3 separate regions of the Homo sapiens genome follow, and regions 1 and 2 are each linked to region 3. Evidence: fine-mapped expression QTL. A gene starts in region 3. Each other region holds a variant in brackets. All regions are shown on one strand. Distances are between the middles of the regions. Region 1 overlaps LOC107986829 (a long non-coding RNA gene). Region 2 overlaps TAF6 (TATA-box binding protein associated factor 6). Region 3 holds the start of LRCH4 (leucine rich repeats and calponin homology domain containing 4).

The links. PIP is the estimated chance that this variant, and not a neighbour inherited with it, causes the effect.
Region 1: its variant is the best candidate, but not a certain one, in a credible set for the expression of LRCH4 in esophagus mucosa (GTEx, PIP 0.65).
Region 2: its variant is the best candidate, but not a certain one, in a credible set for the expression of LRCH4 in whole blood (TOPMed, PIP 0.84).

Annotation. Positions count from the first base shown.
Region 1 is chr7:100,515,797-100,521,014 of GRCh38, reverse strand. It overlaps LOC107986829 (a long non-coding RNA gene), which reads right to left. Exons shown (of 4, transcript XR_001745301.2): 3 at 4,259-4,422; 4 at 1-1,131. Among named protein-coding and RNA genes, the nearest start is that of AGFG2, 21 kb to the left of the region's middle. The variant A/T (reference allele first, on the strand shown) is at 2,214.
Region 2 is chr7:100,109,806-100,115,023 of GRCh38, reverse strand. It overlaps TAF6 (TATA-box binding protein associated factor 6), which reads left to right. Exons shown (of 15, transcript NM_139315.3): 2 at 756-970; 3 at 1,070-1,156; 4 at 1,255-1,408; 5 at 1,619-1,675; 6 at 2,107-2,226; 7 at 2,771-2,916; 8 at 3,025-3,102; 9 at 3,195-3,296; 10 at 3,703-3,885; 11 at 4,750-4,824; 12 at 4,951-5,076. The coding sequence starts at 815. Among named protein-coding and RNA genes, the nearest start is that of TAF6, 6.9 kb to the left of the region's middle. RefSeq lists a silencer at 4,171-4,398. The variant C/T (reference allele first, on the strand shown) is at 2,718.
Region 3 is chr7:100,583,372-100,588,589 of GRCh38, reverse strand. LRCH4 (leucine rich repeats and calponin homology domain containing 4) reads left to right here and starts at 2,461. Exons shown (of 18, transcript NM_002319.5): 1 at 2,461-2,709. The coding sequence starts at 2,490. It overlaps FBXO24 (F-box protein 24), which reads right to left and starts at 2,262. Exons shown (of 10, transcript NM_033506.3): 1 at 1,926-2,262. The coding sequence starts at 1,964. RefSeq lists silencers at 1,584-1,703, 2,464-2,893, 2,934-2,983 and enhancers at 3,125-3,638, 3,639-4,152, 4,418-4,577, 4,550-4,844, 4,298-4,986.

The DNA of each region.
Region 1 (5,218 bases), 68 kb after region 3:
CAGGAGTTTGAGACCAGGCTGACCAACATAGCGAAACCCCGTCTCTACTAAAAATACCAAAAAAAAAAAAAATTAGCTGGGCGTGGCAGTGGGCGCCTGTAATCCCAGCTACTTGGGAGGCTGAGGCAGGAGAATCGCTTGAAACCAGGAGGCGGAGGTTGCAGTGAGCCGAGATCGTACCATTGTACTCCAGCCTGGGTGACAAGAGTGAAACTCCGTCTCTCTCTCTCTCTCTCTCTCTCTCTCTCTCTCTCTATATATATATATATATATACACACACACACACATACTTACACACATATACGTATATATATGTGTATACATATACACACATATACATATATACTTATATATATATGTATACATATATGTGTGTGTATATATATACACACACATACATAAAATCCTAAATCTCTTTCTAACTAAAATGACAAATACAGAGCCTCCCTGACTTATGATGGAACTGTGTCCTGATTAATTCATTATAAAATCAAGAAAATCCTTAAGTCAAACCATCCTAGCTCCCTGACTTATGATGGGACTGAGTCCTGATTAACTCATTGTAAAGTTAAGAAAATCATTAAGTCAAACCATCCTAAATTGGGGGACTGTCTGTGTTCAGAGGATGGTGGGATGGGAAGTGTGTGTGTGTGTGTGTGTGTGTGTGTGACTGGTGTGTGTGTGTGTGACTGGTGTGTGTGTGTGTGACTGGTGTGTGTGACTGGGAAGTGAAAGAGAGCTAACCCTCACTGTCCACACGGTAAGTCAATAGATAATAGGTAATACTGAAAAAAAAAACCAAGAGCTAAAGACATAACTGTATTATTTAGACATATAAATATAAACCAAATAACAAAAGATCAGCTATAAGAACTGAAAAAATGCTTACTTCTGAGGAGCTGAAAATGGAGGAGAGTTGAAAAGGATCTTCTCTTTTTTCTAACATGTCTTTGGAAGTATTTAACTCTTTAAATTACGACCACGTCCAAATTTATTAAAAATAAGACACAAATTTGGCTGGGCGTGGTGACTCATGCCTATACTTCCAGCACTTTGGGGGGCCAAGGCAGGAAGATCGCTTGAGGCCAGGGGTTAGACGCCAGGCTGGGCAACACAACAAGACTCCATCACTACAAAAAATAAAAAGTAAAATAATTAGCCAGTGTGGTAGCCAGCTACTAGGGAGGCTGAGGTGGGAGGATTGTTTGAGCCCAGGAGTTTAAGGCTGCAGTGAGCCATGATCATGCCACTGCACTACTGCAGCCTGGGCAACAGAGTGAGACCCTGTTTCCAAACAAAACAAAACAAAACAAAACAAAACCCAACCTAAAACATAAGTTTTAAAAAATGAAAAGATAGGCTGGCCGCGGTGGCTCATGCCTGTATTCCCAGCACTTTGAGAGGCCGAGGCGGGCAGATCACCTGAGGTTGGGAGTTCAAGACCAGCCTGACCAACATGGAGAAACCCCATCTCTACTAAAAATACAAAATTACCCGGGCGGTGGTGGTGCATGCCTGTAATCTCAGCTACTCAGGAGGATGAGGCAGGAGAATTGCTTGAACCCAGGAGGCAGAGGTTGCAGTGAGCTGAGATCGCGCCATTGCACTCTAGCCTGGGCAACAAGAGCGAAACTCCATCTTAAAAAATAAATAAATATGAAAAGATAAATTAATCAGATTTTCTTTCTTGGGCCTTTTAGGTGAGAAATGTGGAACCGGGTAGAAGGAGACAAACACTAACAAGTGGTAGGTGGTGGCTAAATCACATTGACACTTGGAGGGAGAGGGAACATTCACCAATTCCTTTTTTTTTTTTTTTGAGATGGAGTCTCGCTCTGTCGCCCAGGCTGGAGAGCAGTGGCACAATCTCGTCTCACTGCAACCTCTGCCTCCCAGGTTCAAGCGATTCTCCTGCCTTAGCCTCCCTAGTAGTTGGGACTATAGGCGTGTGCCACCACACCCAGCTAATTTTTTTGTATTTTTAGTAGAGACGGGGTTTCACCGTGTTAGCCAGGATGGTATCCATCTCCTGACCTTGTGATCTGCCCGCCTCAGCCTCCCAAAGTGTTGGGATTACAGGTGTGAGCCACCGTGTCTGGCCCATTCGCCAATTCCTATTGTGAAGCACCTAGAGTTTTTCCTGGACTCAGAACTTCCTTGGGTTTCAACCTACATGAATTCTGATTCCACTATGGCTTAGTTCTAAGAGATC[A/T]GGTCTCCCTTATCTATCTCTTTCTCTTACTTGAGCTTTGTTGAGTGAACTTTTTTGTTTCTTGCAGTGAAAAAAGCCCTGCTAAAATAGAGGTAGATGCTGCTTCCAGAATTCCTTATTAGTTGAAAGTATAAAATGTAGCAAGTTGGCCTGATGCAGTGGCTCATTCCTGTAATTCCAGCCCTTTGGTAGGCCAAGACAGGATCACTTGAGCTCCGGTGTCCAAGACCAGCATGGGCAACATAGGGAGACCCACATCTCTACAAATAATTTAAAAATAATATGACTGTGACAAATGATTGGAAAGAAAAAAAATTTAAAAATTAATAAATAATTTTTAAGGCCAGGCGTGGTGGCTCACACCTGTAATCCCAGCACTTTGGGAGGCTGAGGCAGGTGGATCATGAGGTCAGGAGATCGAGACCATCCTGACTAACACGGTGAAACCCTGTCTCTACTAAAAATACAAAAAAATTAGCTGGGTGTGGTGGCGGGTGCCTATAGTCCCAGCAACTCGGGAGGCTGAGGCAGGAGAATGGCGTGAACCCAGGAAGTGGAGCTTGCAGTGAGCCGAGATCGCGCCACTGCACTCCAGCCGGGATGACAGAGCGAGACTTTGTCTCAAACAAACAAACAAAAATAATAATAATTTTTAAAAAGAAATAAAAATTAGCTGGGTGTGGTGGTGTGTACCTGTGGTCCCAGGTACTCCACAGGCTGAGGTGGGAGGCTGAGGTGGGAGGATCACTTGAGCCCTGGAGGTTGAGGCAGCAGTGGGCCATGATCATGCCACTGCACTCCAGCTTGGGTGACAGAGCAAGACCCTGTCTCAAAAAATAAAATAAATAAAATGCAGCAATTTGTCCTTCATTCTCTGCCCTCCCATCCCCCACATTTTGAAGGAGATCTTATATTACTAAGGAATATTCATTGCTAATTATTATTCATTACTAATGAATATTCATTACAACTTACTATTCATTACTAATGATTTTCTAAGCTCTACTGATGTGACAGGTCCTTGCATTTCTGCCAGTTATATCTCACAACCCCATTACATCCACGTCTCAGCAAGACCTGGGGGATCTTTGATACTTCAAGTCCAAGGCAAATCAGCATGATATTGTCAATGACGATCAGGATGACATCCTACAGAGGAGTCAGTTAGTGTGATCAACCATCCCAGTTTGCCAGGGACCTGGGGGCTTCCTAGGATGCAGAACTTTCAGTGCCCGAATAACAGTTTCAGGTAAACCTAGATGGCTGGTCCCTAGGTAAAGTGGACTAGGTCCCTGTGAAAGGATACTGCTACCCCTTCCAGGTAAAGATAAATAGCTGGGATGGGTAAAGAGAAACAGAGGCCAGGTGCAATGGTTCATGCCTATAATCCCAGCACTTTGGGAGGCTAAGGAGGGAGAATTGCTTGGTGCTAGGAGTTGGGAGACCAGTCTGGGCCACATAGTGAAATGCCATCTCTTTAAAAAAAAAAATTAAAAAAATTAAAAAAAAATTTAGCCAGGTGCAGTGGCATGTGCCTGCAGTTTTTTATTTGTTTGTTTGGGTTTTTTTGTTTGTTTTGATTTGTTTTGAGACGGAGTCTCTCTGTTACCTAGGCTGGAGTGCAATGGCGTGATCTCGGCTCACTGCAACCTCTGCCTCCTGGGTTCAAGCAATTCTCCCGCCTCAGCCTCCCGAGTAGCTGGGAATACAGGTGCCCGCCACCACGCCCTAATTTTTGTATTTTTTTTTTTTTAGTAGAGACGGGGTTTAACCATGTTGGTCAGGCTGGTCTCAAACTGTTGACCTCAGGTGGTCCACCCACTTTGGCCTCCCAAAGTGCTGGGATTACAGGCATGAGCCACTGTGTCCATCCGTGCCTGTGGGTTTGAGGCTGTGATGAGCTGTGGTTGTGCCTCTGTACTCCACTGTGGGCAACAGAGTGAGACCCTTTCTCTAAATTGAAGACAGCATATCAAGTACCCACGTAATTAAGCCCAAGGTAATCCTCCATTATTTTTCAAGTCCTGTCCATCTTTGGTACTAACCAGCCTGGAGAAACAGCCTCCAAGGTTCCCATCCTCCTCTTCAGGAACTCTGGGTCAAGAAACTTATTCAGGGCCAGGCACAGTGGCTCACACTTGTAATTCCAACACTTTGGGAGGCCAAGGCAGGAGGAGACCAGCCTGGGCAGCAGAGTGAGATCCCATCTCTACGAAAAAAAAAAAAAGAGAGAAGGGATGGTTAAGGCTAGAAGGACTGTGACTATGTAGTGTGTTGACTTGACTTAGATCTTTGTTCATTAAGCTAAGGAATTATCTTGTTTTACAAACCAAGCTGAACCCAGGCCCGCCCATCTGCTCTGTTCCTGCCACTACTTCAAACAGAAGCCAAAACCTCAACTCAGTATGTTAGGCCATTTCTTGCAGCAAATTTACCACACCTACTTGGCTTTTGCCTTTTTGTGGCCACAGCCAGGGGTGATATTCAAAATATTTCACAGCTGGTTACCACATGGCCGGCAGCCATTTAGAACAGACACTGATTTTAGCACTAAGTCCTGTTCCTGGAGATCAACAGCTATGCTGGGGATTAACTCTTTAGTTGCTGAAAGAGAGGGAGGTCTGGCCAGCACGGTGGCTCATGCTTGTAATCACAGCACTTTGGGAGGCTGAGGTGGGCTGATCACTTGAGGTCAGGAGTTCAAGACCAGCCTGGCCAACATGGTGAAACTCCATCTCTACTAAAAAAGCTAGCCAGGCGTGGTGGTGTGCACCTGTAATCCCAGCAACTCAGAAGGCTGAGGCAGGAGAATTGCTTGTACCCAGGAAGCAGAGGTTGCAGTGAGCCAAGATCGTGCCACTGCACTCCAGCTTGGATGACAGAGCAAAACTCCGTCTCAAAAAATAAAAAATAAAAATAAGAAGAGGGAGGTCTGGGGGCCTGGAGGCAGGTGGATGGGGTGGGGAACTCAGGAGGCTGTTGGCAGTAATTTACCAACTGCTAGG
Region 2 (5,218 bases), 470 kb after region 3:
TTGGCTGTGTGTAGTGGTACACACCTATAGTCCCAGCTACTTGGGAGGCTGAGGTGTGAGGATTGCTTGAGCCTAGGAGCTCCTGGGCTCTATCAGTTTTCCCACCTCTGCCTCCTGAGTAGCTAGAACAACAGCCCTGTGCCTGCATACCCAGCTAATTTTTGTATTTTTTGTACAGATGGGGTCTCACTGTGTTGTCCAGGCTGGTCGTGAACTGCTGGGCTCAAGCGATCCTCCTACCTTGGGCTCCCAGAGTGTTGGAATTACAGGCATGAGCCACTAGGCCCAGTCCAGATTTTTTTTTTTTTTTTCCTGAGACGGAGTCACCCTGGCTGGAGTGCAGTGGCGTGATCTCGGCTCACTGCAACCTCTGCCCTCTGGTTTCAAGTGATTCTCGTGCCTTAGTCTCCCTAGTAGCTGGGATTACAGGTGTGCACTACCACGCCCTGCTAATTTTTGTATTTTTAGTAGAGATGGGGTTTCTCCATGTTGGCCAGGCTGGTCTCGAATTCCTGACCTCAAGTGATCCGCCCGCCTCGTCCTCCCAAAGTGCTGGTGGGATTACAGGCGTGAGCCACTGAACCTGGCCCCAGCCCAGATTTGTATCTTTCTCTGTTACACCTCAGGGCTGACTCACGTGGGGATGGACATAAGACACTCGGAGTTCCTCCCCTGTCTCCACTGTCCTCCCTTTGTTGGCCCTCTCCCTGTGTCTCACGTTTCTTTTTCTTCTGCCTGCCCCGTTCCTCTGCCAGGGTCTCCGTCTCTCCACCGGGGGCTTCATCCTTCCAGGGAGGAGAAGAGGGACTCCAGAATGGCTGAGGAGAAGAAGCTGAAGCTTAGCAACACTGTGCTGCCCTCGGAGTCCATGAAGGTGGTGGCTGAATCCATGGGCATCGCCCAGATTCAGGAGGAGACCTGCCAGCTGCTAACGGATGAGGTCAGCTACCGCATCAAAGAGATCGCACAGGTGACCCGGCCCTTCTGTCCAGCTCTACATTGGGTCCATGTCACCCAGGGCCCCGTCCTTAGGATTTTGGGCTGATGTCTGTTCTGTCACCGACCCCAGGATGCCTTGAAGTTCATGCACATGGGGAAGCGGCAGAAGCTCACCACCAGTGACATTGACTACGCCTTGAAGCTAAAGAATGTCGAGGTGATTTGGGGAGACAGGCGGGGGGGGGGTGAGACGCCATCCTTCAGCCAGGTCTCCTCCGGCTCCCTTCTTACCCATGCCCCTCTCTCCTGCCACAGCCACTCTATGGCTTCCACGCCCAGGAGTTCATTCCTTTCCGCTTCGCCTCTGGTGGGGGCCGGGAGCTTTACTTCTATGAGGAGAAGGAGGTTGATCTGAGCGACATCATCAATACCCCTCTGCCCCGGGTGCCCCTGGACGTCTGCCTCAAAGGTTGGGGGAGGGGAGAGCAGGGTGGCAGGGAGGAGGGAAAGGAGGACAGATGTGTGTAGGTGTGAGGAGCCTCACAATAGAAGAAAAGCTCAGTGTGAGATCCCTGGTGAGTTGCAAGGGGAGCAGGAGTGGAAACACGCTTCCATAGCATGGGGCAACTCCCCAATGTCCATGCGTGGCAATTCACCTTGACACCTGCCTTCCTTGCAGCTCATTGGCTGAGCATCGAGGGCTGCCAGCCAGCTATCCCCGAGAACCCGCCCCCAGGTAACCTCCATGCCCCACCCTCTGGGTCTCTGGGTCCCTTTCCCCTTCCTTCCACCTTTTTTTTTTGAGACAGAGTCTCACTCTGTTGCCTGTGCTGGAGTGCAGGAGTGCTGGAGTGCAGTGGCTCAATCTTGGCTCACTGCAAACCTGTGCCTCCTGGGTTCACGCGATTCTTGTGTCTCAGCCTCCTGAGTAGCTGGGACTACAAGCACACACCACCACGCCCGGCTAATTTTTTGTAATTTTAGTAGACACGAGGTTTCACCATGTTGGCCAGGCTGGTCTCGAACTTCTGACCTGAGGTGATCCACCCGCCTTGGCCTCCCAAAGTGCTGGGATTACAGGCATGAGCCACCGCATCCGGCCTCCTCCCACCTTTTACTTTTCTACTATGCTCATCACCCCTCCCGCTGTGCCTGCTTTCCCACCAGCTCCCAAAGAGCAACAGAAGGCTGAAGCCACAGAACCCCTGAAGTCAGCCAAGCCAGGCCAGGAGGAAGACGGACCCCTGAAGGGCAAAGGTCAAGGGGCCACCACAGCCGACGGCAAAGGTCAGTCCTCCTAGGCTAGGCCTCTCTGGACTCTTGCCCAAAGCCACATGGCCGTTTGTTTTGTTTCCTTTTTTTTTGTTTTTGAGACAGAGTCTCACTCTGTCACCCAGGCTGGAGTGTAGTGGTACGATCTCAGCTCACTGCAACCTCCACCTCCAGGGTTCAAGCGATTCTCCTGCCTCAGCCTCCTGAGTAGCTGGGCTTACAGGTGCCCACCACCACGCCCGGCTAATTTTTGTAATTTTTTTTAGTAGAGACAGGGTTTTGCTATGTTGGCCAGGCTGGTTTCAAACTCAGCCTCATGTGATCCGCCCGCCTTGGCCTCCCAAAGTGCTGGGATTACAGGTGTGAGCCACCATGCCAGGCCTCCATGTGGCCATTGGTGAAGTGGCTGAGGTCAGGGCCAGAGCCCCAGAAAGGATGGGGGAGCCTAAGAAGAAGCCAGGTCTCCTGGGTCTCAGGGGAAGTGGAGGGTTAAGGTTCTTCTGTTA[C/T]TGAGGTTTCTTCTGGAGCTTTCTTTGTCAGACCCACCTTTCCAATCACACAGGGAAAGAGAAGAAGGCGCCGCCCTTGCTGGAGGGGGCCCCCTTGCGACTGAAGCCCCGGAGCATCCACGAGTTGTCTGTGGAGCAGCAGCTCTACTACAAGGAGATCACCGAGGCCTGCGTGGGCTCCTGCGAGGCCAAGAGGGCGGTGAGGGCCCCACCAGCTTGCCCTGGCCCTGAGACGCCTCCTCCTGGGGGCCCTATGAATTGCTCCCCACATCCCACCCCCACCTGACTGGCTTCCCTCCTCCCACAGGAAGCCCTGCAAAGCATTGCCACGGACCCTGGACTGTATCAGATGCTGCCACGGTTCAGTACCTTTATCTCGGAGGGGGTGAGAGCATGAGGTTCCACAGTGCAGGGACGGCAGTGGAAGCTCCTGTGAGGGTCTCCCTGCCCCATGCCCAGCACTTCTCCCTCCCACAGGTCCGTGTGAACGTGGTTCAGAACAACCTGGCCCTACTCATCTACCTGATGCGTATGGTGAAAGCGCTGATGGACAACCCCACGCTCTATCTAGAAAAATACGTGAGTGATCCTGCCCATCCTCCCTTCCAGGGACTAGGGACCCTGCTGCCACCAACAGGAAGTCAGTGGTCAGCAGTGGCTCACACCTGAAATCCCAGCAACTTTGGGAGGCCGAAGTGGGAGGATTGCTTGAGCTCAGGAGTTTGAGGACAGCCTGAGGACAGTAGTGAGACTGCTATCTCTACAAAAAAAATTAACCAAAACAAAATTAGCCAGGCATGGTGGTGCACACCTGTGGCCCCAGCTACCTGGGAGGCTGAGATGGGAGAATTGCTTGAGCCCGGGAGATTGATGCTGCAGTTAGCCATGATTGTGTCCCTGCACACCAGCCTGGGTGACAGAGCAAGACTTTATCTCAAGCAGACAAACAAAACCAGAATCAGCTGTCCCGCCCTTTCTCCCTTAGGTCCATGAGCTGATTCCAGCTGTGATGACCTGCATCGTGAGCAGACAGTTGTGCCTGCGACCAGATGTGGACAATCACTGGGCACTCCGAGACTTTGCTGCCCGCCTGGTGGCCCAGATCTGCAAGCATTTTAGCACAACCACTAACAACATCCAGTCCCGGATCACCAAGACCTTCACCAAGGTGAGCCAGGAAAACTTGAGCGTCATTTGCTTCATCACTGGCCACCTCTGGTTGGGGGAAGTCACACTGGAAACAAGGGGGCAGAGGGAAGAGGGACTGGAACTTGTGGGGGTCTAAGGGTCTTGAGGCTTGTCTGTAATACCTTTTTTTTTTTTTTTTGAGATGGAGTCTCGCTCTTGCCCAGGCTGGAGTGCAGTGGTGCAATCTCTGCTGACCGCACCCTCTGCCTCCTGGGTTCAAGCGATTCTTCTCCCTCAGACTCTTGAGTACTTGGGATTACAGGCACCTGCCACCACAACTGGCTAATTTTTTTGTTTTTGTTTTTTTGAGATGGAGTTTCGCTCTTCTTGCCCAGGCTGGAGTGCAATGGTGCAATCTTGGCTTACCACAACCTCCGCCTCCTGGGTTCCAATGATTCTCCTGCCTCAGCCTCCCGAGTAGCTGGGATTACAGGCATGTGCCGCCACACCCAGCTAATTTTGTGTTTTTAGTAGAGACGGGGTTTCTCCATGTTGGTCAGGCTGCTCTAGAACTCCCGACCTCAGGTGATCTGCCTGCCTTGGCCTCCCAAAGTGCTGGGATTACGGGTATGAGCCACTGCACCTGGCCACAACTGGCTAATTTTTGTATTTTTAGTAGAGACAGAGTTTCACCATGTTGACTAGGGTGGTCTGGAACTCCTGACCTCAGGTGATCTGCCTGCCTCGGCCTCCCAAAGTGCTGGGATTACAGGTGTGAGCCACCACGTCTGGCCTCATTGTAATGTCTTAATGATTTACAAGGAAAGTGTCTATGAAAGACTTAGGTCCCTGTCAATCATCCTTTCAGACCCCTTCATCTTAGTTTATTTCCTTCCCCTTACAGAGCTGGGTGGACGAGAAGACGCCCTGGACGACTCGTTATGGCTCCATCGCAGGCTTGGCTGAGCTGGGACACGATGTTAGGCCTCTGGGAGGAAGAAATGGGGGAGGGGACACAGTCATGAGGTTATAGAGGGCACTGTACCCCCATCTGGGAGACCCTGGTGACCCTCCGGCTTTTGCTTGTCCTTTTCCCTTCTAACAGGTTATCAAGACTCTGATTCTGCCCCGGCTGCAGCAGGAAGGGGAGCGGATCCGCAGTGTGCTGGACGGCCCTGTGCTGAGCAACATTGACCGGATTGGAGCAGACCATGTGCAGAGCCTCCTGCTGGTGACTGAAGCCCCTGTCCCCACACCTGCCCACTGAGACACAGGCAGTGTTTAGCAAGCATATGGCATATTTTATTCACTTACTCCCATCTTTGCCTCATGTTTTCAGAGGACATTGCAGAGTCTGATACTATTTTACAGAT
Region 3 (5,218 bases):
CTTGCAGGGGCTCAAAGGAGTCCCATCCTGCCAGACCACCAGCCCTCACCACACAGTGTCACAGATCCGTTCATTGACTGCACCAGACTGACCACCCAAATTCCCTTATGTATGGTGCCTAGCCATGGCTAGGCTGGGATGCCTGAGATGGAATTTTAATTCTTCAGCAACTACTCAGGAATATCAACCTCTGAGATGTGAACTAAGGAGAAAGCAACTTCAGTGACTTATTTCTGGGCAACCTACCACATAGGGAGGGGACTGCATTAGGGACTCATGCCACTTAGAAAGGAAGATCTCCAAGTAGACAGAAAGGTATTTTCCATTCCTCTTGCATTTGGGTCCCCTTTATCCACTCCATTTCACCCCAGGAGGCAAACGAGAGGTTGTGAATAGAAAAAGTCCACTGTGGGCCAGGCTTTGTGGCTCACGCTTATAATCCCAGCACTTCGGGAGGCCGAGGTGGGAGCATTGCTTGAGCCCAGGAGTTTGAGATCAGCCTGGGCAACATAGTAGGACCCTGTCTCTACAAAAAATACAATTAGCTGGCATGGTGGTGCGTGCTTGTAGTCCCAGTTACTCGGGAGGCTGAGGTGGGAGGTTGAGGCTGCAGTGAGCTGCGATCAAGCCACTGCACTCCAGCCTGGGCAACAGAGCGACTCTGTCTCAAAAGAAAGAAAAAGTCCACTGTGGGCCGGGTGCGGTGGCTCACGCCTGTGATCCCAGTACTTTGGGAGGCAGAGGCAGGATCGCTTGAGGTCAAAAGTTTGAGACCAGCCTGGGCAACATAGCAAAACCCCATCTCTACAAAAATTGAAAATAAATTAGCCAGGTGCAGTGGTGCCGCCCGTGGTCCCAGCTACTTGGGAGGCTGAGGCAGGAGGATCACTTGAGCCCAGGCATTCAAGGCTGCAGTGAGCCATGACTGCACCACTGCACTCCAGCCTGGGCGACAGAATCAGACCTTCTTAAAAAAAAAAAAAAAAAGGCCGGGCGCGGTGGCTCACGCCTGTAATGCCAGCACTTTGGGAGGCCGAGGAGGGCATATTGCCTGAGCTCCTGAGTTTGCGACCAGCCTGGGCAACACGGTGAAACCCCGTCTCTACTAAAATACAAAAAATTAGCCGGGTGTGGTGGCGGGCGCCTGTAGTCCCAGCTACTCGGGAGGCTGAGGCAGGAGAATTGCTTGAACCCGGACAGTGGAGGTTGCTGTGAGCCGAGATCGCGCCACTGCACTCCAGCCTGGGCGACTGAGCGAGACTCCATCTCAAAAAATAAAAAAATAAAAAGAGGAAGGGAACGGAAGGGAGAGGGAGGGAGGGAGGAAGAGAGGAAGGGAGTGAAAACATCCACTGTGAAAACTGAGGGAGCGGGAAAGGGCTGTGCGTGGAGGATCCAGAGACCTGGTTTCTAGAGCAAGCCAGCTGTCAGGAACTTGCTGTTCGCTCTTGCTAACGCATCAACTTCCCTCTGCCTCAGTTTCTGCATTCGTAGCACCAAGGGCGTGTTCTAGGCGGTGAGATCCTTTCTAAGCCTCTAAAACCCCGTGGTCTGGTCCCCTCTCCATTCCTGTCCAGGGGAGCTCCTCGGGTGAGACGGCAGACCGTGCAACGCTGCACCTACACCCTCCCTCCTCGAGCTGGGCATCTCCAGGCTCTGGGAAGCCCCCCGCCCGCCCCCAGCCCGGGGGTCCCGAGACCCCTGCCAGAGGCTTCACAGTCGGAGGTCCCCCCGCTGCCCCTTCAGCTGCGACAACCGCCAGTGCACTGGCCTCAAGCAGTCGCCCGAATCCCCTCAAGCCCTGGACGCCGGCTAGCCCCCTAACACGTCCAGCTCGCACTCGCCACTGCAGCGGCGAACTGCGTTCCCGGCCGGCCAGGGGCTCCGCGTTCATTCTTAACCTCAGTCTTAAAGTTCTAGCTCACCCGCCTCCTCCTTAGCAAAGGGACCGCCTTCTCGCCCATGCTATTGGTAGGTAGAGCCGTCCCTCAGAGAAGAGGCAGGTCCAGATTCCCTTCGGAGGCTCTAATTGGCCTTCTTGACAGTCACTCGCCTGTATCTGGCTTACGATTGGTCTTTGGGGGACGAGGACTAGGCACCCCCTGCTTGCGGTCCCTCGGCCCGTTTTCCTGCTAGTGGAGTGCCGGTGTCCCCTCCTCTTGGTTGGACCTGATTGGCTCCACCTCCCGATCTGAGCATTGTGATTGGGTGCAGCTGCGCTGGGCGGGACGGCCTGGAGCGTCGGCCGTTGGCGAGCGCTCTATCCTTGTTCCCCTCCCTTCTCTCGTCAGACTCCGGCGCCGGAGCTCCACCCCCACTGACGGGTTCTGATTGGCCGCTTCTGACGCGTCTCGGGGCCACGATTGGTCCGTCCGGTCCCGGACACCGCTCCCTCCCCCTTGAGGCAACTACGGCGGCTCCAAGGAGGGGGTGGGGGAAGGAGGGACGGCCGGTCCCGTCAGTCAGGCAGCGGGAGCCGCCGGGAGCGGATGGCGGCGGCCGTAGCGGCTCCACTCGCCGCCGGGGGTGAGGAGGCGGCAGCCACGACCTCCGTGCCCGGGTCTCCAGGTCTGCCGGGGAGACGCAGTGCAGAGCGGGCCCTAGAGGAGGCCGTGGCCACCGGGACCCTGAACCTGTCTAACCGGCGCTTGAAGCACTTCCCCCGGGGCGCGGCCCGTAGCTACGACCTGTCAGACATCACCCAGGCTGGTGAGTGCAGCCGGGCCCCGGGCCCAACCGGGTCCCTCATTTGCATAGCCCCACCCCGGGCCCCGCCCGGCCCGGGAGTCGGGCCCGCCCCTTCACCTGGCGGCCAGGGTTGCTGCCCCTCCTGATTGCCCTAAACCTGCAGCCATCCTCTCCCATCTTTGAGAACCCCCTAGACAATGAACGTGCTTCTCGTTTGCACAGAACGCCCTGCGCCTCCGAGCGTTGGGAGAGATTCCTCCTTTCTCTTTATTTGCATATCTGCGCACCTGTAGGATGGTCCCGCCCCTCACCTGGTTGGCTTATTTACATGATCTCTTAACCTCAGCTCCAATCGGTCTATGAAGCAGTCCCCACGAGCTCCTCTAATAACTGCTTTCTCTCCCTCTTCATCTACACCTCTTAACCCCCGTCCCACCGAGATCCGAGCAGCCCCGGGCACCCCCTTCCCAGTGACTGGCCCCTAAGCCCGAGGTTTCTGCTTTCTGTGCCGCAACCCCGCCCCCTAAGGTCCTGGCCCTCTCCACTGTCCACGCAGCTCTCCAGCCTATGGGAAAGAAACAAATCTCTACCTCCCCTCACTCTTTTCTCCCTGAGCTCTTCCGCCTATTATCCCCAACCGGCTTATCTGAGATTCCTCCTCCTCCTTCCTAAGCCTGTGAGGTCACTGTGGAGCCTGTGACCTCATAGGGATCTTAGAATTCCCATTTCAGTTTCTGCTTTCCCCCGGGGGAGGGACTTGAGGCCGTTGCTGGAGGGAAGGAAATCTTATCTCCTAGCTGGGAGTGCTGGCCAGCTAGAGACTGTCCTTCCACGCCTCCACCCGCAGGATCTGTCCAACCATGCACCCTCCACCCTGGTGTCTGTGGATGGTAGGGGGTGGGGGACTTAACTGTGACAGGTGAGTCAAGCCTCAGCTACTCAGGAGGCAGCCTATGACCTTGGGCCGGCAGCTGGGGGTGGGGATCAGGATCAGGGAGGAGGACTGCATTCCCGAAGCCTCACCCCAGCCCAGGCCTCTTCCTCCTCTCATCTGCACGGTGGGGGACCAGAGCTGGAGGATAGTGCTTACTTCTCCCTAAGCAGGTGCCTGCTCACCTGGGAACACTCAGGCCGGCACTGGCACACATCCTCTTCCCTCTTCTGGGGAGAACCAGTCGAAACCTCCCCACTGATCTCGCCTGCTCTGCAACACTTGAGATGGGGAATGAGTGAGCTCCAGGAGCCATTCCTGCCCCTTACAGCCCTGTTCCCTCCCACCCCCACCTAACCCCACACTCCAGATTGACCTCAGCAGCTGTGTGACACTCACTGTCTGTTCCCTTCCCCTCCCCCTTGGTTGTTTTTTGACAAAGACCAAATGTTATTCTTTACTTCCTTAGGCTGTCTCTCCCTGTGTGGACTCTTGGGGAAAACTACCCGGAGCTCCCCGGCCCCTCCCAGCTCCCGCCCCCGGCCCCCTCCTCCCCCAGCATTCCGGCTCAGGGTGCAGCCGTGCTCCTGTGAGCTTGGGGGGGGGTCGGAAATCCCAGCTTCCCAAGAACCCTCCTCTGCCCCACTCTCTACACAGGGCCCAGGTTCTAGGCCAAGTGGGGTCCCTCTTGTCCAGAATTCTCTCCTCTGTCCCCTCTCCGCAAGCAGGGACAGAAAGGGGAAGTGACAAAAACATACAGTTGCCCATACCCTGCCCTCCATCTCTCCTCGCCCTCCAAGCAGACGAAAAGCATCAGTGCCTTGCTGCCCGGACTGCCTTGAGCCTTCCCCTCCCGTCTCCCATCTCTTTCTGAGTGTCTTCGCTGCGTGTCGCCTAGTCTTGGGTCCCTGATCTCCCTTGGACTAGGCTCCCTGGGGTGATAGTAGGAAGAATCCTGAGGTGGCGGGGAGGGGCCATCTTGCAAAGGAGAAGTGCAGCTCATTCTCTCCCAGACCACATCCTGTGCCCCCAGTGCCCTGCCTCCTGCCTGAGCTCCCTTCCGCTCCTAGCTTTTGTCCCCGCCACCGCCTACCCCATCAGAACTCTGAGAACTCGGTCTCCACCCCCTTCGTCCACATGCACACACACAAACACATTTGCAGAGAAAGCGGGCAGGTGGAGGCGAGGCTGGGAGGGGCAAATGCCATCCCCCCACCCTCTCCAGAACGGTCATCTCTGAGGCCAGGGCTTCTGTCTGTGCACCAGGGCTGGGCAGAGAGGAAGAGAAAGGGGTCCCGGGGCATCAGGCTGTCATCCACCCTGGTAAACACGGGGCCTACCAGAGCCAGAACCTGACAGATTGTTTCTACTTCATTTCCTGTCACAAGACTCATTTCCTTGGGGGATATACCCGGCTTCTCTCCTCTGCTTGCTTTTGCTGGCCTGCCCTTCCCTGAGAAGGGCCCTTGGAGAAGCTCACCAGGTCTGTGGCCTGGGACTCCGCCTCGCGGGCCCTGGGCCCCTCCCAGGACAGGCTGGGCCGAGGAAACAGAAAGGCAGGCTTCTCCAGGTCTAAGCCGTTAGTGGGTCCGTGCTACA